Homo sapiens: one gene and its partners. The protein of the gene in region 2 purifies or fractionates together with the protein of the main gene of each other region. This does not show direct contact. Each region holds a gene or a part of one and is shown on either strand. Other genes may lie near its edges.

Region 1 (7,834 bases), on a different chromosome or scaffold from region 2:
GTAGTCTAGTACAAGGACTAGAAACCTGCTCAAATTAGCTTCAGAGAAAAAGAGAAACTATTATTAGGTTGGTCCAAAAATAATTGTGGGTTTTGCCACTGAAAGTAATAGAATGATACACAGATATTTCATGGATGTAAACCCAGGAAGAACAGTCAGATCTCACACAATGGCAAACAAAATTAAAAGACCTAGAACAATCTCTCTCCGTGTCTCTCTCTTTCTCTGTCTGTCTGTCTCATGCATGCACACCTCAGTTTCTTGGTCTCTCATATCTGTCTCTGTTTTTGATAAATGGTGCAGATTGGCTTTTTCTACACTCATTGAAGAAAATGAATGGGCTGGGCATAATTCCAACACTTTGGGAAGGTGGGGCAGGAGGATTGCTTGAGGCCAAGAGTTCCAGACCAGCCTTGGCAACACAGTGAGACCCCATCTCTATAAAAAGAAAAATTAAAAAATTAGACAGGTGTGGTGGTGCATGCCTGCCCAGCTACTCGGGAGGCTGAGGTAGCAGGATCACTTGAGCCCAGGAGTTTGAGGCTGAAACGAACTATGAATACCACTGCACTCTAGCCTAGGCAGCACAAAGCCCCATCTCAAAAAAAAAAAAAAAAAAAAAAAGGCGGGGGGGAAAAAAGAAAGAAAATGGTTGTACAAAGTGAACACAAATTTCCATTTCATGTGATCAGCAAAGATTCTAGAATCTGTATACCATGAATGTAAATCCCTAGGAGATTGATCGAGCTTGGTCAGGTGTTTGGCTTAGCGACAAGGAGGCAGGATTATGTGACTCAGTGACTTCTAGAAGGGGATCATGGAAGACTCTGAGAAAGCCCTATTGGCAGAGCTGGCAAATAGCTTTGCATGTCTGCCACAAGCATGAAAACAAGTAAGGCCAGTCAACCGTAGTTGTGCTAGAATCGAAATATGAATATGATTCATCAGTGTATTGATGGGTCCAGGAAGCTAGGAAATCTAGAATTATTTTATTTGTTTTGTTTGTGTTTAAGTTAGGAGTGTCTCTTTTATTTTGGCCATTATGCACCCCAGCCAGTGCTTAGAGACTTGTGTGTGAGTCAAGCTCAATGGATTCTAAGCTTTACTCACTCATCCCATGGATTCACTGAGTAACATTTGAGAAGCCACTGGTTACTTCACTTCAAAATTACTAGGACTTACCTAGAAGTTCATATTTACCACCCTTTTCAGGTCTAGGGAGAAGAATGTGGAATTGTTAGGAAACTCATTTCAATGTATTATAATAACTATTAATATTTATTAGAAATTTATTTACTAGGTATAGGACTAGACTCTTATAACAAAAATGTATAAGATTTCAGAGACCCAGCATTTAAATGAGAAGGTAGAATATACACATATAACTCAATAATATATTACTCTGTAATACATACAAAAGAAAGTTTATTTGGGGGAAAAAACAAAAACAAAAAAAAAAAGCTAGAGGAAACCAGAGCCAAGAAAGAAGAATGATTAGTTCTCAGTGAAGAAAATGGGAAAGGCTGGGCTAATAATATAGAATTTGACTGGAGCCTTGAAGTAGAATTTGAAACAATGGAAGAAAAAAAGAAAGCTATTCTAAGTAGAAAAATAAGGAATTGACAATGAAGAATGGGAAAGGCAGGCCAGTGAACTCGTGAATTTGGCCTAAACATAGTGTGCAAGAGGGAAAGATAGCCACGGAGCCCACAGAGGTGAGTTGGAGCCAAATCGTGACCTTAAACCCTAGGGTACTTTGAATGTCCTGAAGACATCTAATGATTTTCAGCAGATCAGTCCTGCATTTTTGGATAACTGTGACAACAGGTATAAAAGATGAACTGGAACAGGAGAGAAGGAAGCACAGAGAGATTATATGGGAGTTTGTCACCATGGTGAAAGATCAAAAGGGTTTGAACCAAAGAGAGATTAGCAGTGGAACAGAAAATAGGAGATGGCACAGAAAACCCTAGTAGGGTGTAAAGACAGAATTGGAATGGGATGTTAGCAGGGGGCTGGTGGTGCACCTGGGGAAGAAAGCAGAGGTTTCTGGTTTGGGTGATTGTCTATATGAAAACGGGATAAACAAAGGAGGGCAGGGCATGACGATACAACAGATCAGAAGGAAACACTGGGGAAACTTATCTGAGCCGTGTTCCCCAACAAAACTCTGTCTTGAGCTAAGGAAAAGAAAAAGAGGGGAAGGCCTCACTTCACCCCTGAGTGCTTTTTGGAGTAGGGTCTCTGGGTCTCTCAAGATCCTTTCAAGTGGCCAGTGAAGTCAAAACTATTTTCATAACAATACTGAGACGTTACTGCGTTTTTCACTGTGTTGACATTTGCCCTCATGGTGCAAGAACAAGGATGGGGACTGGTGGTCATTGTATTCTTCATCACTGGGCACTCACAGGAAGAGAAAGGGAGAGGGACACGGAGAGGCCAGCAGATCAATGAATTTTAATGCCACGGAATAGGAAAAACCATTGATATGGTTTCAGATTCCACATTGCAACTTTAAGAAACTACCACTTGTTGAGTTTTGGTGTAGTATCAGGGGATTATCCAGAATTATCTCCTGTTTTTCTAAGTCCATATCTGTGTAACACCAGATTAATCAATATAATTTCACCAAAACTACATGCCGTAACAGATTGGATGCAGAAGCAGATCTGAGAATCCAAATGTCTGTTTTTAAGCCAGATATTTAAAATATTAGCAAAAATGTAAAGCAATGCCACTCTTCTCCCGGATTCTTTCATTTGGAGAAATATAGTTATTTTTCATAAAATGTACATTATTTATGTTCACACATAATAGGATTTTTGTTAAAGGACTTACTGAGTAAAGGGCTCTTGAGACCAAAGAGTTTGAGAAGCCCCAGCTTAACCTTCCATATTTCCTGCTCTGAATGTGGTGTCCCTCACAACTGCAACTAGGCAGGAGAGCACCCTGGAAGGGGTTCTCAAACTACTTTGTCTCAGGAACACTTTATCCTCTTAAAATTAATGTGAGGCAGGAGTTTGTTCTTTGTTTCTAAAAGTTTTGCCTGGCTCTGGAAAATCGTAGCTCCTGACTTATTCTGCACTTCATGACAGTGTAATGTTAATTTGTCCAGTTCTGAGAACAAAAACCAAGAAGGATGCATGTTATTTCCCCCCACCCCCAGAGATAAAACACAAATTCCTGTCTCACATTAAAGGAAGTGTCCTGCCTCCCAAACACAGGTCTGTTCCAAACACTTACTCACATTTCAGTGAGTCAGAAGGAAACAGACAGATATTCATCTCCCTGAAACCTGGCTGACTTCCTTCAAAAAGTCTGTAAGGAGCGTCAAAATCGTGTCACCGGTTAGTGAGCAGCCACCTAAGAGCTCTCAGGTGATAGCCGGAGTTTTAGTAAGCAGGTGAGTACCCCAGACAATTCAGAAAAAAATGCCTTCAGGTGTTTGTCAAGGTGAGTAAGTGCAGCCAGTAAGTGACTGATAAGAAAACAGGAAAGAGCCTGGGACTATATAATTTGGGTTCAAAGGGTATTAGTCATAAGCCATCAGCAGCAACATCTGATGCATACCAATTTAATACTTTAACAATGTGACACATCAGCCCTATCTATAGTAAAGAGAAGAGCTTGATTTTTATGAATTATTAAGTCCTTCCCACCTTGAGCCACTTTGCTTCCTAGAGGCAGTATCTCAGGCATCCCATTCAGCTCATAGTAGCATTCCATGAAGATCTGGAATGATGACAATAATGATGATTATTAGACTCATAACTCCTTAAGCTTGATTTATGAAAACAGTTCGTTCCTTCACAAAAGTAGTCACTGGAAGAATTCTGGTTTCAGCAATGTGCTGGAAATTTGTGGCCAAACTTTTGGATAAAACATAAGATTCAGACAAGAAAAATTAATATCCTATTTCTTAGGTTTTTAACTAAAAATCTCGGATATAGAATGTTCTCTTTCCAGATGTGAGACTGAAATAATGGAAGAAAATGGTCACAGTCTATGTCATGGTGTAATGTAGACAGGGAGAGTCACAAGTGCATGTATGGGCTCTCAGCCTTTTCTCTGGCCTTGAAGTTAATCTCCTAAACTCAGTCATTAAATCAGCTCTTAATTATCTCGGAGGAGAGGAAGTAATGATGATTTCTCTCTCTCTGTCTCTCTGTCACACACACACACACACACACAGCTCTTGCAGCAGGTATTGCTTAAATATCACCTTGGATAATCATAACTTGTGAGCAGATCTTCTTTCCTGATGAGTTAGTTTCTAACCTGGTCATTCTGCGCTTATTTTTGTCCCTTTCTCCACCCACTTAGGAAAAACAGAGAAAGGGACGCACCGCGCAGCCCCTAGGCACTGTGGTTTAGGGCTAGTGCCCTCGGCACCCGCTGCCAGGAGCCGGGCGCTGCCAAGGGCTGCGGAGGGGCCACGTTCTCCCGGGGACTGGGGCATCTCCTGCGTGCTGGCGACAGGCTGCGGGGGCGGAGTGGTGCCAGGGCGGGCGCTCGCCCGTCGGATATGCCCACCCGTCCCGTCCAGGGCAGGAAAGCCTGCCAGGGCGCCATCCCCATCCCCACCGCCTCCAGGCTGCCGGGGCTGGGCCGCTGTACGGGAGCCAAGGTGCGGTGCCCCGCGTGTGGACGAGCCGAGGTGCAGCCCGCGGGGCCGCAGGGCCGGGGTGGGGCGGGGCGCGGCCGGAGCAGATCCGGTGTTTGCGGAATCAGGAGGGGCGGGCTGGGGCGGGCCCTCGGCGCTGCAGGAGCTGCCCAGAAACTTTTCCCTGCTCTCACCGGGCGGGGGAGAGAAGCCCTCTGGACAGCTTCTAGAGTGTGCAGGTTCTCGTATCCCTCGGCCAAGGGTATCCTCTGCAAACCTCTGCAAACCCAGCGCAACTACGGTCCCCCGGTCAGACCCAGGATGGGGCCAGAACGGACAGGGGCCGCGCCGCTGCCGCTGCTGCTGGTGTTAGCGCTCAGTCAAGGTAAGCGGGGATTTCGCTCTGCATCGGCTGCAGGAGGGACCCGCGCGGCTTCCTGGGGCTCGCTGGAGGGATTGGGCGGAACTAGGGAGCGAGCTCCGTGTGTTCCCTCGGATTCCACGTGGACTCGGGCTCCCAGCCACCAGGACCTGCTTGGAAAGAGATACTTCTTCGTTCCCTTCCTGCTATCCCAGGCCTTGCGTCCCCATTAGGCGCGTCTCGCCCTGTCTGTTAAGCACCCTCCAAAGTCATCTCAGTGAGTGCTTTGTTTTAGGTACACACACGCACACACACACACACACACACAGACAGACACGCACGCACTCAAGCATGGACAGTGTGGGGATCCGCGGGTGTCCTGGAGACCGCGAGTCCTGCAGCCCAACTTCCCCTGGCTCAGACAGGTGCCGCGCCTGCCAGAGACCAGGGAAATCCGGAATCCATTGCTGATGGCGGCCTGCAGCTCCCCAGCGCGGTGCTTGCTGGCTTTGCAGAAGCCTGCGAGCCCCAAAATGCTTATTTTTCAACCCAAGGATGTGAATAATGCCTCTATTTCTTACTTGAGGACGAAGCGCTGTGTTTCTTCCCGGGGGGACTTGGAATAAACCAAGCGCCACTTAAATACTTGGCAGAGGGGAATTCTTCCTTCCCTTCTGCCTTCCTCTTATTGTTGTAACATTGTCTATTCGACGAATGTAAACTTAGGCTAGGAAAAGTTCTTTTCACTTCTGGATCCTAGATGCCGCAATGAGAGAATAAGCCGGAGCAGCCGCTCTAACTGTAGTGCTGTGGCAGTGGGGCCCGCCCACCTCCTGAGTTCTTTTACACTAAGAGGAGGAAATAAGGCTGGGGTGGAGAGCTTTTGTGGGACCATCGCCTGAGTACTTTTTCCCTGACCATTAGGCAGAGCTAGAGTGTGGTCAAATTTAAGAATTTTAGTTTATTTGGAGGGAGAAGGAGACACGTTTGTATAATGTAGTTTGAACAGCGATCAAAACAAAACAAAAAAGTTGTCTCTGATTTTAAAGTGTGTGTGTGGTTTTTTTTTTTTTTTTTTACAAAGAAGATAAATATTTCCTAAGCTGTCCTCCTTTGAGACTGACATTCAGCCACTTGCTATTCTTTATTGTGGAGGAATGAATCCTAGTCCACGTCAACCTGGTGGCATTTTCTCCAGGTCAGAGATAAGAGAGAAATAGCACCACTGTCCCCAGCCCGAGCAGAGAATGGGCATCTTAGGTTTTCTGTCTCACCTGTATTGGGTGCTTCAGATACTTTCTCCGGGAACCAGATGAGTTGTTTTGAGGGGCCACCAACCCTAATCTACGGATTTCAGGTAAAGTTGTACTTGACATTGAAAATGAGTCTCTGGAATACAACTAGAGCTAATAGAAATATAAACCCAAGCTTTTCATCTCTCTGTAATTACCCAGTATTAAAATAAGCTGTGGAAACATAACATCATTTTCTTATCTTTGAAATGTTGAGGCTTGTTATGTAAAGAGCAGTGAGAAATTCTTTAATGGAATGTAACGCTGCAAGGCATGAAGTCAGGAACAGAGACTTAACCTGGAGTTAATAAGGACACCTCAGGGCAAGCAAGCAGAGATGATCGAAAATAACATCTGCAAAAGTTTTGTGCATTTATTCCCTCCTCCTACTCCAGCCATTTGTATACTCAAGGAACAGGTTTTCTCTTAATTTAAGATCCTCATAAGAAAGCTCTCTCATTTGTGATATCACTTGAGGTTCCTGGAGAAGCAGCATCGTTTTTTGGTACCATGAGTATCCCAGGTTAACATGAATAAGTGAAATCTCTAGCTCAGTAGTATCTAAAATTTTGTATGGCATTACCCTATCTGTATAAAATTTCTCATTCACTATCATTACACACACACACACACATAACTGTTATAAAATTATAGTATGTACAATTGCATCATATCACATACAAAAATTCAAATTTAAAAGCTATGTATGTGACAGAGCTTCATTATGATGATCTTAAATTAAGAGAAAACCTGTTCCTTGAGTATACAATATGCCGTGTTATGTATATACAATTGTATATACATATATATACCTGTTAATATGTATAAAACACATGTGTGTTTAGACATCTTGTATCATCTCTAGCATACATGCAAACCACTTTAAAAACATATCACCTTCAAATCTTATTTTAACACTTACATTCAAATTTGCTTTCCAGAAACCTTTTCACAGGTGCTTAAGAAGAAAATGTACTCATAGTTTAGTCCTATATTTATCACCTTTCAGTGCTCATTTCTAAGTGCTTAATACCATGAAAATGGTAAATGGGCAGTCTGAGGATGAAAAAGAGAGAACATAAGAGGCCTAGATAATCTATAAACTAAATATAGGCCATTAGCAGAAGGCAAATGTAATTTTGAAATGAAGGCCATCACGTATTTTCTCCAGTATGTTCACAGGTCAAGGATAGTCCTTCCACCCAGGTTCTAGACCACATCTTTTCTTACTATCCCTGAAACCCTGCCCCAGCACTCATCCCTCTTCAGTGCACGTCTTCAAATTCTCTCCCTAATGTAACTTCCCCTCAGTCTGTAAATATTCTAATTTTTCTTATTGTAAAAAAAATATTTCTTTTGATATTTAATTTCCTCCTGAAACATCCTGTACTTCTGGCTTCTGTTCTCTTCCTGTTTTTCTCCTCCTTTCCTCGCTGCTCTCCCGTCATCTCCTTCACAGGCTCTTTCCTTGTTGGTGTTTGCAGAGTTTCATCCTGAATCCTCCTCTTCATTCTGCAGATTGTCTCTGGGCCCATTCCCTGCACAGGTCCCTATCTCCAGCCAGCCTCCCCTTCTGAG
Region 2 (7,000 bases):
TATGACACAGTCCAGAGCACCCCAGCTAGGATCAGGTGCCTCTTGTGTGTTCTCACCTCCCAGAGTTACCTCTACCTTGGCCCTTACCTAGTGTGACTTGTATCTCTGTGTTCTGTGTTCCCATCAGACCAGAGCTCTTGGAGTTAGGGTGTGGCATGGTCACTAACATGTTTCTTCCATCTGGGAGATCCAAAGAGTGAGGATGAGGACCAGAAATTCCTAGCTCCCCTCTCACCCCTACACATGGCAATAATGTAAAAAATATTCAGGCCACCCCTCAGCCTCCGACCAGTGCCTTAGGCCCATTAACTTATAACAATAATCTTCCCAGGCTGGACAATCTCCTTCATCCTTCTAGCCCCTGATGAACACCAGGCACAAATCCATGGGACCTGAATCTTAACTACAGGCAGTCGGGGCAGCCTCAAGTCTAGGCTGAGGTCCCTTAATGGGCACGTGAAGGGGGCTGCTCCCTCCCATGCCTATATCCTTCACTGCTCTCCACAGACGTGCACCTCCTCCGGGGCTCTTTTCCCCAGGCAGGACAGGCAACTCCCAACCCAGGTGTAGCGCCTGGCTGGCCGGCAGCCCACCTGTGGCTACCCTCTGCCCATGGCCTACTGGCCTCTGGCACTGTCTGAACTCAGGCATCCCCAGTGCTGCCCGTGTCGCTCAGTGGGCATCCCTACCCTGGCCTCTTCCTGCATGTCTCCCGTGGAAATTTACCCTGGAGCAGAGAGTGTCTGGGGCAGGCAGGGAGGCATGGCCCTCAGACTCACACAGGCCTCACCCTGTCATTAGAGGGCAGGTTTTCCCTCCCAAACCAGATGTACAGACCTGGATTCTGGGTCAGTGTCCACCTCACTGGCTCTGATCTTCCACCACTATAGCCTCTACAGTCACAATAGGACCACCTGTACTCCTTGGTCTCAGCCTGTCCTTCTGTCTCCTCTGCAACCCCTTGGTGACCAGAGCCGGCCAGTGTGAAGTCTCTCATCTCGCCGTTCACATGGTGTCTTTGACCCATGCATCCCAGCAGGCAGGCCTTGCTGCCTGGGCGAGGGAAGGTGGTGGCTCAGGGGCATCTTCAGGGGTGGTTTCTGATCTGGGCAGCTCTGGAACCCATATCCCCATGTCCTTGTTCATCTAGGCCCTGAGTGCATAGAGTCTGTGGCTGAACCAGGCCTGGGAATGAACTAGTGTCTCCTCTTTCCAAGAAGGTTTGTCTGGGTCACCTGCTCTGAATAGCTCTGGGAATGAGAGTCATGTCTTTGCTAAAAGCAGCAACCCAAAGGAAGGGAAAACAACACCCATGGCTCTTCCGAGGCCTCCGAGGTGTTTCGATCAGATACGACCTACTGTGAAACACCACTCAATGGGGAAGAAATATGTGAATGTTTTTTCTGCTCACTGGAGCTCATTAGATTAAGCAGAATTGAAGATAGGCATGTTGAGCTTATTGCTCTTCCATCCCAGCATCAGTGGGTTTGGAATGTTCCCAGACATCTTCAATGCTTCTCTCTCCAAGTGGTAAAACTGAAGATAAGAATTTTATTTTATTTTATTTTAAGCCTTTGAAAAATTAATCCTAAAGTAATATCTGTTTTTTAAAGACAATTTGGAAAATATAGAAAAGTAAGGGGGAGGCAGAGACAACAGAGTTCAGCCATAGTCTCATCACCCCAGCACAAGAGAACCCAACCATAGTCTCACCACTCCAGCACAACAAATGTGCAATAGGAAAACAATTTGTAATTTCCATGATCATGAACTTTGAGGTGAATTTTTAATTCCTGTTCTTCCTAACGGAATCTACGCATTTAGTTGTCTATTTGTCTGTCCTCGAACTTTTTCCCCAAAGGACTCCATGTGAGCTAAGCTAATTTGGAACACATGAAAAAATAGCAAAAGAAAATGGTGAGGGATACATGGGAATGACCCCAAGAAGCCCAGTTATCAACCTGTTCCCATGGGCAGCAATGATGATACTTGGGTTGAATATTCAGTATTAGGACTCTAGGCTCATCTACTTGTAGACTATTCTGGCTTCCATACCCAGAGAGCAACTGGGAAATAGAGTCGTTGCAAAAGGTGTCTAGTGGACTTCATTAGGGAAGCCACAGCCCAGTGGGTGTGGCCGGTACGATATCATGCCGCTGCCTCCACAGGGAGAGCTCCCAGGGAGGTGGTGTGGCCATTGCTTCCAAAGCCTCCATCACCTGCCCATACACGCCAGCTCATTGTATTGGCCTTACTCTTCCAAGAGGCCATGGAAGTATAAATAATAAAGCAAGAAAGGCAGATGCATTTGGCTGGCTCAGTGGACTTCTGAATGTACTGTGAGTATGAGACCTTCCCTTCCAAAAGATCCGGTGCTTCTTGTCTATTCCACACGAAGCTTGCTTCAGATCGAGGGAGGATGTAGCACTGTCCACAGGTGGGTGTATGAAAGGAAAATTCTAGAGGATCTCCAAAATCCAGGTAAACCCCTCTTGAAGAATTTGTTGAACATCTTTGGCAGAGTGTTATGGATGTCTACTGCCCAGTGCTTTTCTAGAGAGAGAAGCTTCATGAATGTGGGGATGGGAGAAGTCTTGGGACATAAGTGGTGCCTCCAATTTGGGTCCACCCCTGCTGCATGATGCTGGCCACAGTCATCCTTGTGTGTGAGCTGTTTGTGAATCTTTATCTCTCTCTGAGGATAGAGGCTGGATCCATCAACTCACTGGTTCATGGAGAAAGTGAGGCGAAGCAGCCTGTTCAATGCATTTCTGCAGAATTGCCTTCACCACTGATGCACACTGCAACCACAATCTCTTCCTTTGTCCACTCTGGGCCTCATTTCCCTCTTTATGGCACAGATAGTCCTGAAGTCAATGATCTCTCAGCCTTTCCAACCCACATACCCCTCCTCCTAGAATGCAGTCACGGAAGGGGAGGAGGACCAGGTCAGGCAAACAGCTGGAAGGTTCTTGAGGGTTTGGAGAAGGCTGTGGGGCTTGTTGGGCTGAGAGTCAGTCTGCAGCATCAATATGGACCATTTCCTGGGCATTGCTCTAGTGCCCCAGTGCCTGACACAGAGTGAGGACTCAAACATATTTCTTAAGGAATGAAGGCAGAAATCTACAGGGCAAATTAACAAGTGGAATGGGGACATGTTCTCCACTCTTTGTTTTCCAGAAAGGAGGAGAAAGTATATTGCTGTGGTCATCAGAGTTTGTTTATGGGGCTTCTCTTACTTCTAACAGGGGAGAGAAGATATGTCTTACCACCACTTAGTTCTAAATGTGCTTTTAAAAATAATAATTTAATTTCTGATGTATATAGAGTGATTTCTTCTTAAAGCAATATCAGTCCTTTAAAACAGGTGAGCCACAGAGCAGGCCTGAAGTGGCTCTTCAAGTGCAGGGCTCTTGTGAGGGTCTTCTGTTGGGAGGCCAAGGCACACCTTTAGCAAGGATTCCTCAGATTTCTCAGCCCAAAGAAGGGCACCGGGTTTACCCAAGTGCTGCACATTCCAAGAGGCGCTCAGAAAAGGTTCTGAGGAAAGGTGGCATCTCAGAGGGCCTGGGGTTCCTGGGGCAGGAAGGGGTTTCTGGGGCAGGAAGGGGTGTCTGGTGCATGCAGCCAAGTGTAGGAAGCATCTCCCCGATGAGGAGGCAACACACTGGTTGCCTGAAGCTCGCTCTGTTGGTTCTCAAGACATGGGAACTTGTCCAAAGCATTCTAAACTTTTTGGTCTCATTGGCTTGAGGAAGGATATTACATCAACTCTTTCTAGCCAGTCAGTTTCATCCCAGGGAAGAGAGGTAGGGTGGTCAACTATCAGGAGAGGAGTGACCTGCCTGGGGGCAGGGGGAGTTCTCTCTAAAGAAAACTGTGGTTCCAAACCACTGTGCACTGAGTAGACCTTCTGTAGCCTGTGTGTGTTATCCCTGTTTAGGTATCATTTCTTCAAACTGTGGTGATAACGGGGGAAGCGCTTTGTAAAATTAGAAATATTATTATTGTTGAGTCTGCTGTCACAGCTCACTGTTGCTTCAGTTGGCTGATCGGGACGGTGTGGGAGGTGGAAGCAGTGCCCTCCCACAGGGAAACCCCTTCTCGTGTAGACTTAAGCCGCCTATGCTACCTGTGCGGACGCTTCCCATCTGGTTTGGATCTGTCTTTAGGATGAATGACTTCCGGGTCAGTGAGGCACTATTTTATCTAGTCATAAGAGGAGGAAATTATTTTTCCAAATTAATAGGGAACATGGGAGCAGGATGATCAGAGAATTGAAATACTGACTATAGCTTCATGTGTCCCATGTGTACCCCATGGGGTTCGGTTTCTATCTTGTTCTTTTTTTTTTCTTGGTTTTGTTTTAGTTTTATCTCTTTATTTATTTTGAGTCACAGCCAAACACACACAGATACACACACACACACACACACACACACACATTCCAAACTAAAAGCCAACAAACAATTGCTCAACTCAGGAGAGCAACCTATCAATTGATTGGGAAATAACCAGTTGCTCAGCTATTTTAATTGATGGAATTAAAAAATTAGCCTACTCAGGCATCTAACCCAACTGACAAATTTGGGTCAGTTTAAAGCCCGTGATGACAGATGGAAAGGCCCGGAATGGGGCTGGTGTTGGCTGTTTGGGGGAGAAAGGCCAGATGTTCGCACTCAGGGAGCCAGGGCAGGAGGCCCGGTGGAGACTGCTGTGACACAGGCATGCTGAGGTGGGAGGGTGCTGAGACCCCACCAGGCCAGGGTGTGGGCTGTGTCCCTTGGGGCGGGGGTGGGGGGGCGGGGAGGTGGTGGCAGTGCCACCTGATCAGCAGTATCTCATGGGGGAAGAAACCAAATTATCACCACCTCCCCCTCATTTAATAGATGAAGATACTGAAAGCCTGAAGGGTGAAGAGACTTGCATCAAAACACCTAACAAACACACAAGTTGGGGAGGACCGCTATCCAGACCTGGAATTCCATAATCCGTTCTTGTTTCTGAAACTTGACAATGTTTAGGGATCAGTGACTGAACATCACTGTAAAGCTGTGCGTGCCACAGAGTGTTCCCAGGATGGTGCTTTCTGTGGGTTCCTTCCCTGCTCCAGCCCTGCCCTGCCCGGCCTCCTCCAAGGCTCCTGCCAGGCTGCTGGTTTCACCGCTGCTGAGAATGTTTTCTCAGCTCAAGGGACATGTCTTAACTTCTCCACTCCTAGGCACTGGGAACTTGCGCCCACTCTGAATAGCAGAAGCTTCTATTTTTAATCCAGGCAGCCTTTGTAAACAGTGCAGCCCCCTAAACCCTGAAATGGACTCCTTCCTATTTTCTTTTGTTTATCTGAAGCATTCTTGGGAATTTTACTAATTTCTCTTCTACAATCTGTTTTCAGCAGCCCATAGAGCCCTTGTTCATCACCAGCTGTTATTAAGTTTTACCAAGAAGTGGTTTTTGGGGGTAGAAGGTGCTTAGAGAGCACCCAGGTTCAGAGAGGGAAGTGCTTTCTGGAATGTCACACAGCTACGAAGGCATGAGAGCAGAGCACAGAACTCCTGCCTACTTAGTAGTCCTGGCGTTTTAAAAAATATGTATCTGCCCGTATTTGTGAGGATGTTTTTGGCTTCAAGGAAGTGACCATGTAACTCAACGTCACTGGGGGTCCAGAGGCAAGGTGGGCTCTGGGTTCAGCTTTTTCCATGGACCCAGCCCCGGTTTCTCTTAAGAGCCCTTGGATGCATCCTCTTTGTGCTATGGCTTTGTCTTAGAGTCACTTCCCTCACGGGGCAAAGTTGCTGTTAGTCCCTGCCTGCCGTGCCTTCCTGCCCAGGACATCCCAGGAAAGAGACAGGCCAGCACCCCAACATTCCAACAAACAGTCTTGAAATCCTCCCTCATTGCACCCCTTAAGCCACATGCCCCTCCCTAAACAAGGATCAGGGCAGAAATTCCCGCCTGCACTGATTGGATTAGGTCTGGCTCCTGAACCAACCAGTAGCAGGAGAGTTGAGATGCCCCTGCACCAATCAGGCCCTCCCTTGGAGCTGGGAGGGGCTTGTGTCCCTGAGGCACATGGGCTGCCTGAGAGAAGAGTATATTATTGAAAAGAAGAAAAAGAAAGAGAAGATGAGGAGAAGAGGATAAGAGGAGAAGAAGGCGAGGAGGGGAAGAGGAGAAGAAAGAAGAAGAGGATCTATTGGGAAGCTGGGAGAATGGATGCTGAAGGAGCAATGAGCAGTATTCACTAGAATTTTCCAATACTATACTACAAACTCCTTGAAGACCTTTGTTGTGATCAAGGCTCTATCCACAGTGCTTGGCGTAGAAGGATTTGGACATGAAGAACCTGGGAACTGGGGACACTCCTAGGTACAGGCCCTGCCTGGTGTTCATTCATCTGCTTATTCAGCCAACCAGAAAGAGCCAGGCATGGGAGTTTAGCTGTGCAGACCCCGTTGGTGGCTGACCCAGTTCCCTTTTGCTGGTGCTGCTGTGAGGGTTGCCTGCTGACAGCTCACAACTGCCCTCCCCTCTCCAGAAAATTGTCCTTGGCTGATAAGACCTAACTGACCCAGTTATGCACCATGACCTGCATCCAGAGGACAGATCACAGCCACCAACTGACCGATTCTATCCAAAAGGCCAGCCTGGAGAGCCCTCCCACTGTGGACCAGGCCAAGGCTAGATGTCACCTTGGCTCCTTCCCTTTTCCATCCCACTTCCCTCACTTCCCTACAGGGAAGACAACTGCCTCAATACATAACATGCACCTAAATCCCCATCTCAGGTTCTGCTTCTAGGGAACCCAATCTAAGACAACCATGAAAAACCTTTACTGTGGACAGGCTGACTATTACCCACAGATTACAGACATGTAAGATATAAATTACAGGAAGAAAGCAGACTAAATGATATAACAGATGACCAAGCAAAGAAATCTGCCTTCGTTTTACATATAAATGGGTGTGACCATCACTGACAGTAGTATGTCCAACCAGAG
Region 3 (5,539 bases), on a different chromosome or scaffold from region 2:
ACAGAATGGTAGGCCAAAGCTGCCAAGTTTGGGACTTGTATACCTGTTTGGAAATGTCAAAAGTTCTTGTTAAGTAGAAGCAATTGTACTGATCTTACACATATAGATTCTCCAGAACTCTTGCCAGGATATATCCTTCATCCTACCTCGTAAATATTAAGAGAGTTGTTACAAACCTAGTTGATACACTAGAGAAAATAGTAATTCTGTTCACAACTTAGCAGCAGAGTCATAAACTGAATAAAGTTTGATTCCTTAGATGAGCAGGTAAAACTGTCATTGTTTACTCTTTAAAGGAGAAAGAACGTTGATAAATCAACCCAGCAAAGACCATTCTTTTTGGTTTGCTGCCTGTGTAAAGACGACTACCAATGTTCATTTTACTACCATGAAAACTTAGACCAGAGGGTTGGTGGGTATTAATGTGATCTGTTAAGGGAGACTAGTAACCTATTTTATTGGATATAGACATTTTCATAGAAATGCTCAACACTACTGAATACATCAAAAACCATACTTTATTTTATGTATAGCAATACAATTTACATATTAAATAACACTATAATAGAATGATTTGATATAGTTTAAACAGAAGAAAAAGGGAAAAATTTCAGGTTACAAAACCCCTCCCCCTGAACAAATTTAAAAAAAAAAAAAAAGCACACTTTTTCCAAATGGGTCAATGTGACGAATGTTTTCAGTGACTAATTATGTCTAATTCCTATTGCACAAATGGTCAATGGAATTAAAAAGAAAACCCAACTTTCACAATCACTGCCTCAAAGAAATAACACATGTTGGATTCTTTTGGAATGTAAAGATGGTTTTTGCTACTTCAATACACAGAAAGTTGAATTCACATATCCACCACAAAAAGGAAAAAAAACTATGACGGAGTTGAAACTAGAAAAAAATTAGCTTTATATGAAAATATAAAATTCTATGATTATATACCATAGATACAAAGTTCCCAGAAGATGCTTACCCAAGCAACAAAATATTTACAGTTTTAATGATTTTTAGCTATTTCAAAATGGAGTGAAAGAAACATGAGTCAATGTGAAGCCAGAATTCTTTAGAAACAATGGCTGCTTGCTAGTTTCAAATGTCCTAACAAAAAAGGAGTCACTACCCCAAATGTTGGAGAGTTGCGACATTTTATAAAATCGACTTTCTCCTTTTCTGGAGATGTTTATTTCTTAAAACTCAAGATATTTTTCTTGAAATTAATTATCCTCTGTAGAAAATGCTTCCCTTTGCAAATATTTAACAAAAATACTAAAAACAGTTTAACAGCTAAGACAAAGTAGAGGCCAAATATCATTATTACAATTCCTTCCTATTTGTAGCATGCCTTCTTCTTTCTAGAGATAAGTAAAGCCAGTATTGTATGTTAAATGACAACTAAGGGAAAGCGCAAAGGGTTAAGTGAAATTACATCTGTTAAAAAAAAAAAAAAAGCAGGCATTTTCCCTTCATATAAAAATTCACTGGCACCATTTGAACATAAACTTTAGAACATAGGAGTTGAAAATGCATTTCCAGTATAACCACTAAATTCTTAAGACAAACTACATTTTGATTCTTAAATTATGATGAGTTGGGTTTTTTTTTTAGTTTTGCTTAGAATTAGTAATATGTATCTTTGGTAAATTGGTATCTATATTTTAATTTTAAATACAGTATATATGCATTTAAGAAAAATTCATAACAAGGCAGTTGTGCTGTGTCATTATAAAATAATTATTTACTGATTTCAGTATGTCACTCTGGGCTAAAAACTCCAACAACCAGAACTTGAACACCGTAACCCTTCTTTGGCCTCGCTGGACTCTTCTACTTGAATAGACTAAAAACTCTAAAGGCATAAAAATTAGGAAGACCAATTAGCTAATCTTACTCTTTTTGAAATTCAGAAATTAACTTTTTTCATATTAAAGAAGATATCTTGGCTATCGCATATAAGAAAGAGTTCTCCTGATGGCAACAGCATGTCTTTTCTTTGATGTCCAGCACAGCCACTTGGTCTGATCATTGCAATTTATTTTTATATGATGTGTGCATTTTGCTTACCTAGAGCTAAATTCATATACACAAACAGCTTATTTTATTAAGTTGCACACATTAATTTGCAATAGCTATTTCCTTTCCCCTGAGTGCAAGTGTTAATAACCTTGTTATGTACTTAAGCAATGTGCTTATGTCTCAAAGAAAACCCTGTCTTTGAAACTCTGCCTCTGGAAAGATGCAAGCTATGTTTTTGCCAATAACACATGAATAATAATAGTGAGGATATGCTGTCTCTTGCAGGGGTGAGGACCTGCTAAATATAACTGTCCTCATTGAAGTGTGTTTGGACTACTTTGGCAAGATGGGCAAGTAGCAATTGCTTATAATTCAGTGGGTCAGGATATGAAGACTTTGGTTCAAGCTCGCTGAAGACACACAGATTGCTCACAGGGAACTTCTAAACTCTTTCTTTTATTGTTTCTATCCTATTTACTAGCTGTTTTTTCGTGATTCTGAAACCACTGTAAGGGACAGCCACAGAATTGCATTGGAGGGTATGCCTTTCTACGAATTGAGCCCTCTATAAATAGCACAGGAGGGAATACTTGCTATTTGTCTTTGAACCAGTGTTTACTTTTATTAAGAAAAAATTACTGAGAAAGGGACCATGAACCCTAACTCGAACATTACTTTTGAACATCAAGCCCACTTTGCCATCTACTAAAAAGTGTTAACTCATATCAATACTCTATACATCTAAAACAACCCACTTAATTGACTAAAAAAAGAGTCTAGCTCATTGCTTTCCTGATTCTCCTCAGCATCTGGCAGTTGTAGTGTTCCTGTGTTCAAGCTTTACTTGAACTTTACAGAGCTTCCTGTGTCACCTCTGGTTGGAGCGGAGGGGCTGTAAAGGTGTCTCTCATCTAGCACATGCAACTTAGCATGCTCTCTTGAACATCTTATCTCAGGACTAGCTTACGCAGCTCTTGAAAAGCAGAGTATTCCATGTTGTTAAATCTATGTATTGAGAAGATGAGATAAACCCTGGTAAATTATGTAGTTTATGAAAACTCCATTGACCTGGCCTTTGCATTCAAATTCTTTAACTTGGCCCATAGCTTCTTTCTCCTTAGCACTTCTGGTCCTCCAGCACCATTCTGACAAACTTTATGAAAGCCAAATCAAGATAAATAGAACCTCAGTGCTGATCATCATTAATGTTTAATGCATACCCAGATGGCATGACAGCAGCCAGCGTGGCCTTTTTGTTGAAGTTAATTGACATAAAAAGTAAATAAAACCCTATTCTTCCTAACAGGCCCAGTTCTGGTGATGATTTCACTTTTGACAGAAGCTGTCCCTCAAAAGCAAACATGCAATAGAAGAAACAGATCTCAGTAAGTAGCTTATTTTCCTTACAAACACTACTGAAATTTCTTATTAATGCTCCTAATTTTCCCATTATGCACTGCAGCGTGAGTATGGCTCCAGAGGCTGCACCTAATAACTTCCTTGAGCTCTAATGATTATTGGTATCTTTTACTAATGTGTATCTGTTCTAAACTACACAAAAGCATACAAAGCCATCTCCCTCTTTTAAAAACTTGAAAATGTGGGTATCACCTTTAATTAAATATTTTAAATTTCTCTCTCCAAATCAGATTTATCTATGTGTGGGAGTTTAGATAGTCCCAAGACTTTTGCTAAGACAGTATTTCCAATTTAATCTTAAGTAGAAAAATGTATGTAATTAAGAGATTTATTATAAAACATTTGGCAAAGAAGGAAAGAAAACAGTAACTATGTAGGTAGTTTTTATTAGATTGCTATAGGAGTAATAGGGAATTTTTAGAGGACTAGTTTCAAAATTACACACCTGCAGAAGTTTTCATTCTTCTACCTACTGTGAGGTATGGTATTACAAACTAAGAAGCATTAATGGAGAATAACTAAAGGGTCTCATAACTGAGTTGTATATAATATTGCTATCTTGCTATTGTTAAAGATAGCCCTGATTTTAGGATGTAGCTATTTTAGAGAGTCAAAATGGAAATAACACATTGTCCACATAGCTACTGTGAAAGCTGTAATACAGAGTTATCCTTTATTTTGACACATTTTTAAAAAACTGTGAATATAACTTTGTAACTAATAAGGGATGTTCACATGAAGCAGTTCTTAAGCCTTCTAACTTCTTAAGGGATCTCTTAACCAGCATAAATGGAACTGTTTCAAGGCCATGACATTAACAGACCTTTTTAGGTCCCAGTAGCCTGCTAGTCTGTAAAAGAAAACAATGCTATCCACTCCATTAAAATACAGAAGGCATACAGTATTGAACAGTGCCTAAAATAAAAAGGAGAGGAGGACTGAAGAAAAGTACAGCATTGCCTGCTAGTAGAATGCAACCACTTCAGCAATAATAATAATAAAAGCAATATTCACTGTCATAACAAAGACCTTCACTGTATTGAACTAAAAAAAAGTAGCATGTATGTCGTCATGGAATGTCACATCAGGGTTTGCTGTTGTATAAGATTATAGGCAGTAACACTGATCATATAGTGCAAACTAGGTAAAATTGCGTTTCACTGTGTGAAATGAACAGAGGTGCAAATGCTCAGTAGGATACCATTAAGACATAAAATGGCAAAAAATAAATATCAAAACTTTTATCAGTGTAAAAAAGTAACTGGGTTATTGTATAACCTAGAGTCTGGCAAAAAAGGCCTCAAAAAAGTTCTCAGTCTTCAGAAGTTTACAAATTAAGTGCCCTTTCAGGATTCCAGTCACACTAGGGACTCCATGCTCTCAGCAGGGTCTGATTCATCTGCAATAAGAACAGCACCATTTTTGTCTACTGTCATGGGACCATTTCCATTTTCTTTAGTGCTGACCAAGCTAAGCATTGCTTTATAGATGAACTGGTATTGTTCCTGAAAAACAAGAGGAAGACAGTTTGAGCCAAAGAACAGTTTAGTGATTTCACATAAGGTGGAAATACCAATTAAAATGGTAATTGTGAAAAACACACTAGAGAAACAGCAATAGCATAAATGTTATCTAAAAAAACTAAAAAAAAAATCATTTGAATTTATTATAGTCAAGACCTATACCTTCTTCATGTCCTTTTGATCTCTGTTAGCTTGGAACCAATTCTCAGTGCTGATTGTTAATGAACAATCATTATTGGTTAATGAAGATAACCAATATCTGGTTAATATCTGGTTAATGAAGATAACCAGAGAATACTATCCTCTAAAGCAGGGCTTCTCAACCTGAGCACTACTGACATTTTGGGCCACATAATTCTATGGTGTTGAGGGCTGTCTTGTGCTGTGTAGTTTGCTTAGCAGCATCTCTGGCTTGTATCCTCTAGATGCCATCCATCTGCAGTTGTGACAAGCAAAAAAGTCTCCAGACATGGCCAAATGTCCCCTGGGGGGCAAAATCACCCCCAATTGAGAACTACTGCTCTAAACTGTGAGTCTGAGTTTCAACTGATGTAGTACAGGTTTTACACATA
Region 4 (7,060 bases), on a different chromosome or scaffold from region 2:
AGATGTAGGTTCAATGAGAAATTTGAACAAGCTTTGACCAGGCCAAAAAAAAATCACTAAAATCTTTACTTAAATGTCAGTGGCTTCCATAGATAAATTATTATGGTAGAATATTAGTTACATGAAGTTCATGTTGTATATTGATATATGTTTACAAAATAGAATGCTTGATTCTTGATCAAAATTTTCTTTTTAAAAAAAATCCTGCAGTTATATTTATTGAATTCTGAGCTCTACAATTTTGGTTGCTATTGCTGGGAACTCTCTTTTACTTAACTACATCACCACTTATCAAGAGACTTTAATAATTAAGGGAATTTGTTTTTTTTTTCTCCTAGGTTTACTTTATCATCATCAAGAAATAAGAAGCATGCTAAAAACAATTTTACATGTGTAGCATGTCACCCAACGGAAGACTGCATCGCATCTGGTCACATGGATGGCAAAATTCGTCTTTGGTCAGTTTGCTCATGAAGAGCATGGCGATCATTTATGTACTATTTTACGTTAGTCCTGTAGAACAGGGCTATCTCTGGGTCCCAAGAAACAGCCTCCCTTTCCTTTTTTGTGTGCTTTTCATTTCATACTTACTGTTTTAGAATTTCTAGCCTTGGACTTATAAAGTGAGTGAAACATTTTTTGTTGCCTGTAATCATTTTATTGAAGAAAACTTTTTGTTTGCCTTTCTCCAAAAAGGAAAGACTGACAATAGTGAATATCTAGGAGGGTACCACAGATGGCATATTATTTATAGAAGTCAGTCACTCTGGTTAGAAATAGAAAATGTGCACATTAAGACCAGAAGCCTTTATATTATGATTTAGTATGTTTGGTATATATTATGTTTATTGTATTTGGCATGCCATTGTTTTCCTAACTTAAACCTATGGTCAAAATAAGAGTTTTATCTTTCTCCAATAGGAGGAATTTTTATGATGATAAGAAATATACGTACACATGTTTACATTGGCACCATGATATGGTTATGGATTTGGCTTTTTCAGTGACAGGTAAGTGCGGGTTTAATTATTAAAATGAACTTTTGAAGATATGATTCAAGTGTTTTAATTCACTGTATTTTTAGTTTGGAAGATTTAAAACTGCATGAGCCAAATGAATTCCAAACACTTGTGTGTTACCCCTGTATTTTGGGCTTTGCTCAGCACAATATGCTTTAGGTTTTGAAGCCCTTCAAAGTTCTAAAGTGTACATTTGTGATAAAAATCTCTGTTGTTTACATAAATAACCTATTTAAATTATATGACTTTTTGAAGGTATATCTGTCTACATAACTAAGTGTGTGTGGTCCATAACTGTAGCTTATCAGGTGCAAGTAACTATTCTAACACTACATCCATTATCTGATTTAATCATTGGCCGTAGGAAATGAGTGGCATTATACTCATTTTACAGATAAAGGAAGTAGGATTTGGAGTTGATAATTAACTTGCCTAACATGACATGGTGGGTAGGTGGGTTTGGACCTGGTTCTGATTTTAGAGCTCTTGTTTTTAACTGTTACATGGCCTTATTTGACATTAGCTATTTTAAATTAATCTCCATCATTGTTTCATTTAAGCTGCATGACTTCTGTCACAGCTTTGTGTAGTGTAGCTATAGCGAGTAAAAATACCTTTAAAGTAAAGTGGTCTTCAACAGAAATACAGGGAAGTACATCTTGTCTTTGTTTACTTTTAGCATCCTCACACCCATGTGGTGAGAGTTATGTCAGTTTATTTGACTGGTTCTTTAAGAAAGTTACTACATACTAGAGAAGATTGTGTGCCTAAAAAATGAGAAGCCAGGAAAAGTGATTTTTCTTTCTGCAGGTCTTCCTGGAGACTGACAGGACAAGTCTTAGATGGTACCATATGCTGTGGTATCCTTAGAGTCTTACTTGGGTGTAATGCCCGGAAGCCCCAGGAAATAGGAGACACCTTCAACCCGATTATGGTTTGGGGAGTAATGACTAGTGTATGGAGACAATGTAGGCTGCTCATTTGTATTCTCTACCCTCCTTCCCACTCCACACCCTCAAAATACTAGTGAGTGCTTGGTATCCATATGTATGTGTCTGTATATGTTCCAGGCAGGGGTTTTTTTTTTTTTAGACAAGGTCTCACTTTGTTACCCAAGCTGGAGTGCAGTGGCACCATCTTGGCTCACTGCAACCTCGACTTCCTGGGCTCAAATGGTCCTCCCACCTCAGCCCCCTAAGTAGCTGGGACTACAGGCACGCACCACCACGCCCAGCTAATTATTTGTATTTTTTGTAGAGATGGGGTTTCACCGTGTTGCCAGGCTGGTCTCAAACTCCTGACCTCAGGCGATCCCCCCAGCCTCCACCTCCCAAAGTGCTGGGATTACAGGCGTGAGCTACCGTGCCCGGCCATTATTTGAATTCTTGATATTATATTTCAAGTAGCATGAATATTTTTAAATGAGAAATAATGGTTACAGTACATAGTTGTCAGTGAAATGTCCTTACTGACTGTGTGGGTATGAGTTATTAGAAAAAGAAAAAATAGCTGCGTAAATATAAAAGAAATACAGATTTTAGTTGTTTTTGAGAACTTCATAACTTGAGGCATATATGAACTATATGCACAATGTATCATATATGTGTATATATCAGATTAAACTTCTTAATTTTGTTTGTGTACATCACAACTACATACCTTTAGTCTTCTGTTTAGCTAGATTTTATCAGCTTGCAGCTTTAGAAAATTTGATAAAAACCCCATTATAAACCAGTGATCTTTAAAACCAGTTGTTTTAGATTCATGAAAGAATGAAAAATGGTTATTTGATGGAATACTTTTGAGAAAACAGTCTGAAACAGTGTCCTATTTATCCATTTAGTCATTAAGGTAGTCTTTTGCAGGCTTTTGTTAGTTTTCAAACCATTAGATTTAATTGGCCACATTTGACTGGTGGCTACCGTGTTGACAATACAGCTGTTGCTATATTTGAGGAGAATTGATGTTTTTATAGTATTGAGTATTTTAATTTGTAATCATAATAAATACTTTTCCACTTTTTAGGTCTTTATATCCATGAGTTAGGATTTTTTTTCTGTGGTTCTCATATATATTTTTCACTAGACATTTGATGGTCTTTTGATAGTATGTTTTACTCTATATTCTAATTGACTTGCTAGTATTTAAAAATAAAATTGATTGTTATATATTTCTCTTATAATCAGCTAAATTTACTTATTCCATAAGTTTATCTATAAACTATTTTGGCTATGCCTTGGTGTAGTCATGCTGTCTGTGAACATGGAAGTGATTATTTCCTTCTTTCCAATCCTTAAGCCTTTCTGGTTTCATTTCAGTGCACTAGACATCCAGTTAACGTTGAATCAAAATGGTAATAATATTCTTAATCACAAAGGGAAAGTTTTCAATAGTTTAACTTTTAGTGTGGTGTTTGCTATAGATGTTATCCAGGTACTCTTGATGAGATTCAAAGGGTCCCATCCATTCCTGAGTTTCTGAGAGGTATTATCATGAATACGTATAGAATTCTGTCATTTGCTTTTTCTGCATCTATTCAAATAATCATGGTGTTTTCCTTTTGTTCTGTAAGTGGGGTTACATTAATTTATTTTTCAGCTGTTAAGGTAATCTCATTCTTGCAGTAAACTGCGATGACATGATACCCTTTAATATATCATTGGTATAGTATTTTGCTTAAGAATTTTCATCTGTCGTGAAATCGGCTTTTTTTTATATATATATAATATTTTTGGTATAGTATTTAAATGTTTAGAAAAATTTATCAGTGAAGCTATCTTGGCCTAAAGGATATTTGTTTGTCCAGCTTTTCTAGTTGTCAACAGAGGAGTTGGTCAGCAACAAACTAATCAGATATCACTGGAAAAAAAATTCCTGAACCAGTGATCATTTGTCTTCAGAGTATATTAAAAGATACGAAGACACTTTTTGTAGCTTTAAATGAGTTTATTTCTCTAGTACGGTAGCAAAAACAAAAGTGTTAATTATATTTTTCTTTCTCTTTTTTCCTCAAAACACCATCCTTTTAATTTCCTTGAATGGATATGAAGGCACCAGTCTGCTGAGTGGCGGTCGTGAATCTGTACTTGTAGAGTGGCGCGATGCAACAGAGAAGAATAAGGAGTTTCTCCCGCGTTTAGGAGCTACTATTGAACATATCTCAGTCTCGCCTGCAGGAGATTTATTCTGCACTTCTCACTCTGATAATAGTAAGTCTAAATTTTTTATTATGAGGAAATATATAAACACCATAAATTAGCTAGCATCTGTAGGGAACAGAGAATAAAGAGACCTAAAACTAAGAGTAGCGTATGAGATTTAATGAGCCTTCTTTTCCTTGCATTACTCCTCTCTTTTCCACCCCTCTCTACCCCTAGGCACCACCAGAATTCAACATTTTTGAGAATTATTTTTATAAAATGGAAGGCTAAGTGTATTTGGTTATTGATGTGCCACTTACATTTTCAAAGTCTTTTAGTGTGGGATGACATGAGGAAATAAAGGGAAGGTTTGGAAGTGGACATTGGTGCTTTCATAAACCTTCCGTTTTCAAAAGAATACTGCAAGATTCTCTTTTGATACAGCTGTTACCTGGGGGCAAGAGTCCTGTAGATTTGATAGAAATAGAGGCAGTCTTATATTTCTCCAAAACTTTGTTCATCCAGTGACTACTCAGCCTAGACTAGGATATCTTTGTAAATCCACTTCCTTTTCTTTCAAAAAAGAACATAACTGTGAGCAGTCCATTTAGTGGCATGAAAAAGTTAAACTATTTTTATTAGATATACTCTATAGATTTTGCATTAACACTTAAAATGTGTTCATAGGCACAACTGATAAAAACTTAAAGACTCCAACAGAAAAGCCCCTATCCCCACCCCTAGATTTTCCACTAACTCACAAAATGTATTCCTGATTTTCTAGTAGTACTCTGAGTTCATTGAACTTACTGGGTTGTTTTGTATTCTGGTATATTTCAGAATATAAACTCAGGTGACTCCTTCACCTTGAAGCTCTAACCCAGGGGTGTCCAATCTTTTGGCTTCCCTGAGCCACATTGGAAAAAGAATTGTCTTGGGCCAGACATAAAATATACTAACACTAATGATAGCTGATGAGCTAAAAATAATAATAATAATAATGTTTTCAGAAAGTTTATGAATTTGTGTTAGGCTGCATAAAAAGCCACCCTGAGCCACAGGTTGGACAAGCTTTCTCTAACCTATTGATATTTAAATACCTATTTTTTTCTACCCACAGAGATAATAATTATTCACCGAAACCTTGAAGCATCCGCAGTAATTCAAGGCCTAGTGAAAGGTATTGCAGAACTCAGTGGATTTGGAATCATGAACATTTTAAAGAGTGCATATTTCTCTTATTTCACCTGTTATTTGTCACCACTTCTGCAGATAGGAGTATCTTCACTGGTTTGATGATTGATCCAAGAACTAAAGCTTTGGTTTTGAATGGAAAACCTGGCCACCTGCAGTTTTATTCTCTCCAGAGTGATAAACAGTTATACAATGTAAGATTTTGATCATTAGCCTTGAAATTAATGAAAGCTCTTTACAGTACCACTGGAGTCAAGCAATTTGTTTAGTAGCTTTTAAAACAAGATCCTGTGCATATGTTTACTTGAACATAGTATTATCCGTGGTTACTTAGTTCAGTTGTTCAGAGCATAATTCCATTGAGGCCACAGTTGCAGGTTACATGTAAGCCAGTTGGCACTCCTGTACGTGCTGTCTCTGTCTTTTGTTTCAGAATGCCCTCCTATTAGCTATCCCATACATCTGTGCTTTTGAGTCACAAGGATAAAGAAACAAAAATAGGTAGATTGACAGTACAAATTTGTATCTGCTTCGTGGTGAAACACTATCATATTCACATATTGAAGATAAAATTTTCAGTGTAGATTAAAGAGGAACACTTCTTCCAATCCTGATAAGTCCAATCCAGATGTCCCACTTTTCTTGTTCCCCACAGTACTCTTTACAGATCTCTGTCATAGCAACTGTGACACTAGCTCTTTCTCACCGTGGCCTTTAGACCCCTCAAAAAAAAGGAAGCATATTAATCATTTTATGCTTATCTCAAGTATAATGCCTGTAAATTGTAGGCATTTAGTACACTTAATAGTAGGCATTTTATTTACTTAGTATAGGCAAGGAAATGGGATTTTTTTTAAAACAACCATAAATAAATGCTGGCCTACTTACATTGGCTATCTTTTTTCATTTCTTAAAGATTGTAGGTTTATTTCTGTTCTGCTTGTTTCTGTTGACAGAGAATCTAGCCTTGAGATGATGTAAAGCTGTTTGTTCTTAGAAACAAAAGAAAAGCACTACTATAAATTAACGGTTCTGTTGTATCATATAGTGGGTGTTAGTAATCGCTAATATTCAAGGTCATTGAAGAATAATTACCACCAAATTGATACTATTATAATGTGTTCCCTTTTTTAATGGCAATTTTGGTGTCCATAGTAACAATTAGTTCATTTTTGCCTTTATTTAAAAATCTATTACTATACAGTACAGAAGTTGTCTTGGATGTAGTTAATTATCATTTCTTGAATGCTGTAACATTTGTGTATTTATGTTAATAAACATTTTGGTTTTTTGGTTTTTTTTACTCATCAGTTAGATATTATACAGCAAGAATATATTAATGATTATGGTCTGATCCAAATTGAACTAACAAAGGCTGCATTTGGCTGCTTTGGTAACTGGCTTGCAACAGTGGAACAGCGGCAAGAAAAGGAAACTGAGCTTGAATTGCAAATGAAACTGTGGATGTATAATAAGAAAACACAAGGGTAATACTATCTGTGTAGCCACTTAATTTCAAAGTATAAAATATTTCACTTCCCATTTTACAGTTTCAATTGTCTTTAAGATGTTTCATCTTGACAAGGTTTAGATTTAGAGATATGGGAGAGGTTTTATTCTAATAAAACCTTTAAGCTTTCTGCTCTGAGAAGACATTGATGTCCTCTAAGTCATAATGTCATCTCATAATGAATAAAGAAACATGGA

Evidence for each region.
Region 1: the proteins of SERPINA12 (region 2) and ITGA2 purify together in Homo sapiens (affinity purification with mass spectrometry; 2 studies listed by BioGRID and IntAct, with this or other methods). This does not show direct contact.
Region 3: the proteins of SERPINA12 (region 2) and PTPRG purify together in Homo sapiens (co-immunoprecipitation; 3 studies listed by BioGRID and IntAct, with this or other methods). This does not show direct contact.
Region 4: the proteins of SERPINA12 (region 2) and WDR75 purify together in Homo sapiens (co-immunoprecipitation; 3 studies listed by BioGRID and IntAct, with this or other methods). This does not show direct contact.

What each region holds. Positions count from the first base shown.
Region 1 is NC_000005.10:52,984,545-52,992,378, forward strand, and holds the start of ITGA2 (integrin alpha-2 precursor), read left to right. Parts: upstream 1-4,807; 5' UTR 4,808-4,924; coding exon 4,925-4,988; intron 4,989-5,545; exon of another isoform or gene 5,546-5,742; intron 5,743-7,834. UniProt on the Homo sapiens protein: Integrin alpha-2/beta-1 is a receptor for laminin, collagen, collagen C-propeptides, fibronectin and E-cadherin. It recognizes the proline-hydroxylated sequence G-F-P-G-E-R in collagen.
Region 2 is NC_000014.9:94,499,470-94,506,469, reverse strand, and holds part of SERPINA12 (serpin A12 precursor), read left to right. Parts: intron 1-2,247; exon of another isoform or gene 2,248-2,437; intron 2,438-7,000. UniProt on the Homo sapiens protein: Adipokine that modulates insulin action by specifically inhibiting its target protease KLK7 in white adipose tissues.
Region 3 is NC_000003.12:62,292,571-62,298,109, reverse strand, and holds the end of PTPRG (receptor-type tyrosine-protein phosphatase gamma isoform 1 precursor), read right to left. Parts: intron 5,497-5,539; exon of another isoform or gene 5,393-5,496; intron 4,950-5,392; coding exon 4,803-4,949; 3' UTR 501-4,802; downstream 1-500.
Region 4 is NC_000002.12:189,458,415-189,465,474, forward strand, and holds part of WDR75 (WD repeat-containing protein 75), read left to right. Parts: intron 1-338; coding exon 339-458; intron 459-921; coding exon 922-1,010; intron 1,011-4,069; coding exon 4,070-4,228; intron 4,229-5,279; coding exon 5,280-5,339; intron 5,340-5,431; coding exon 5,432-5,547; intron 5,548-6,664; coding exon 6,665-6,840; intron 6,841-7,060. UniProt on the Homo sapiens protein: Ribosome biogenesis factor. Part of the small subunit (SSU) processome, first precursor of the small eukaryotic ribosomal subunit.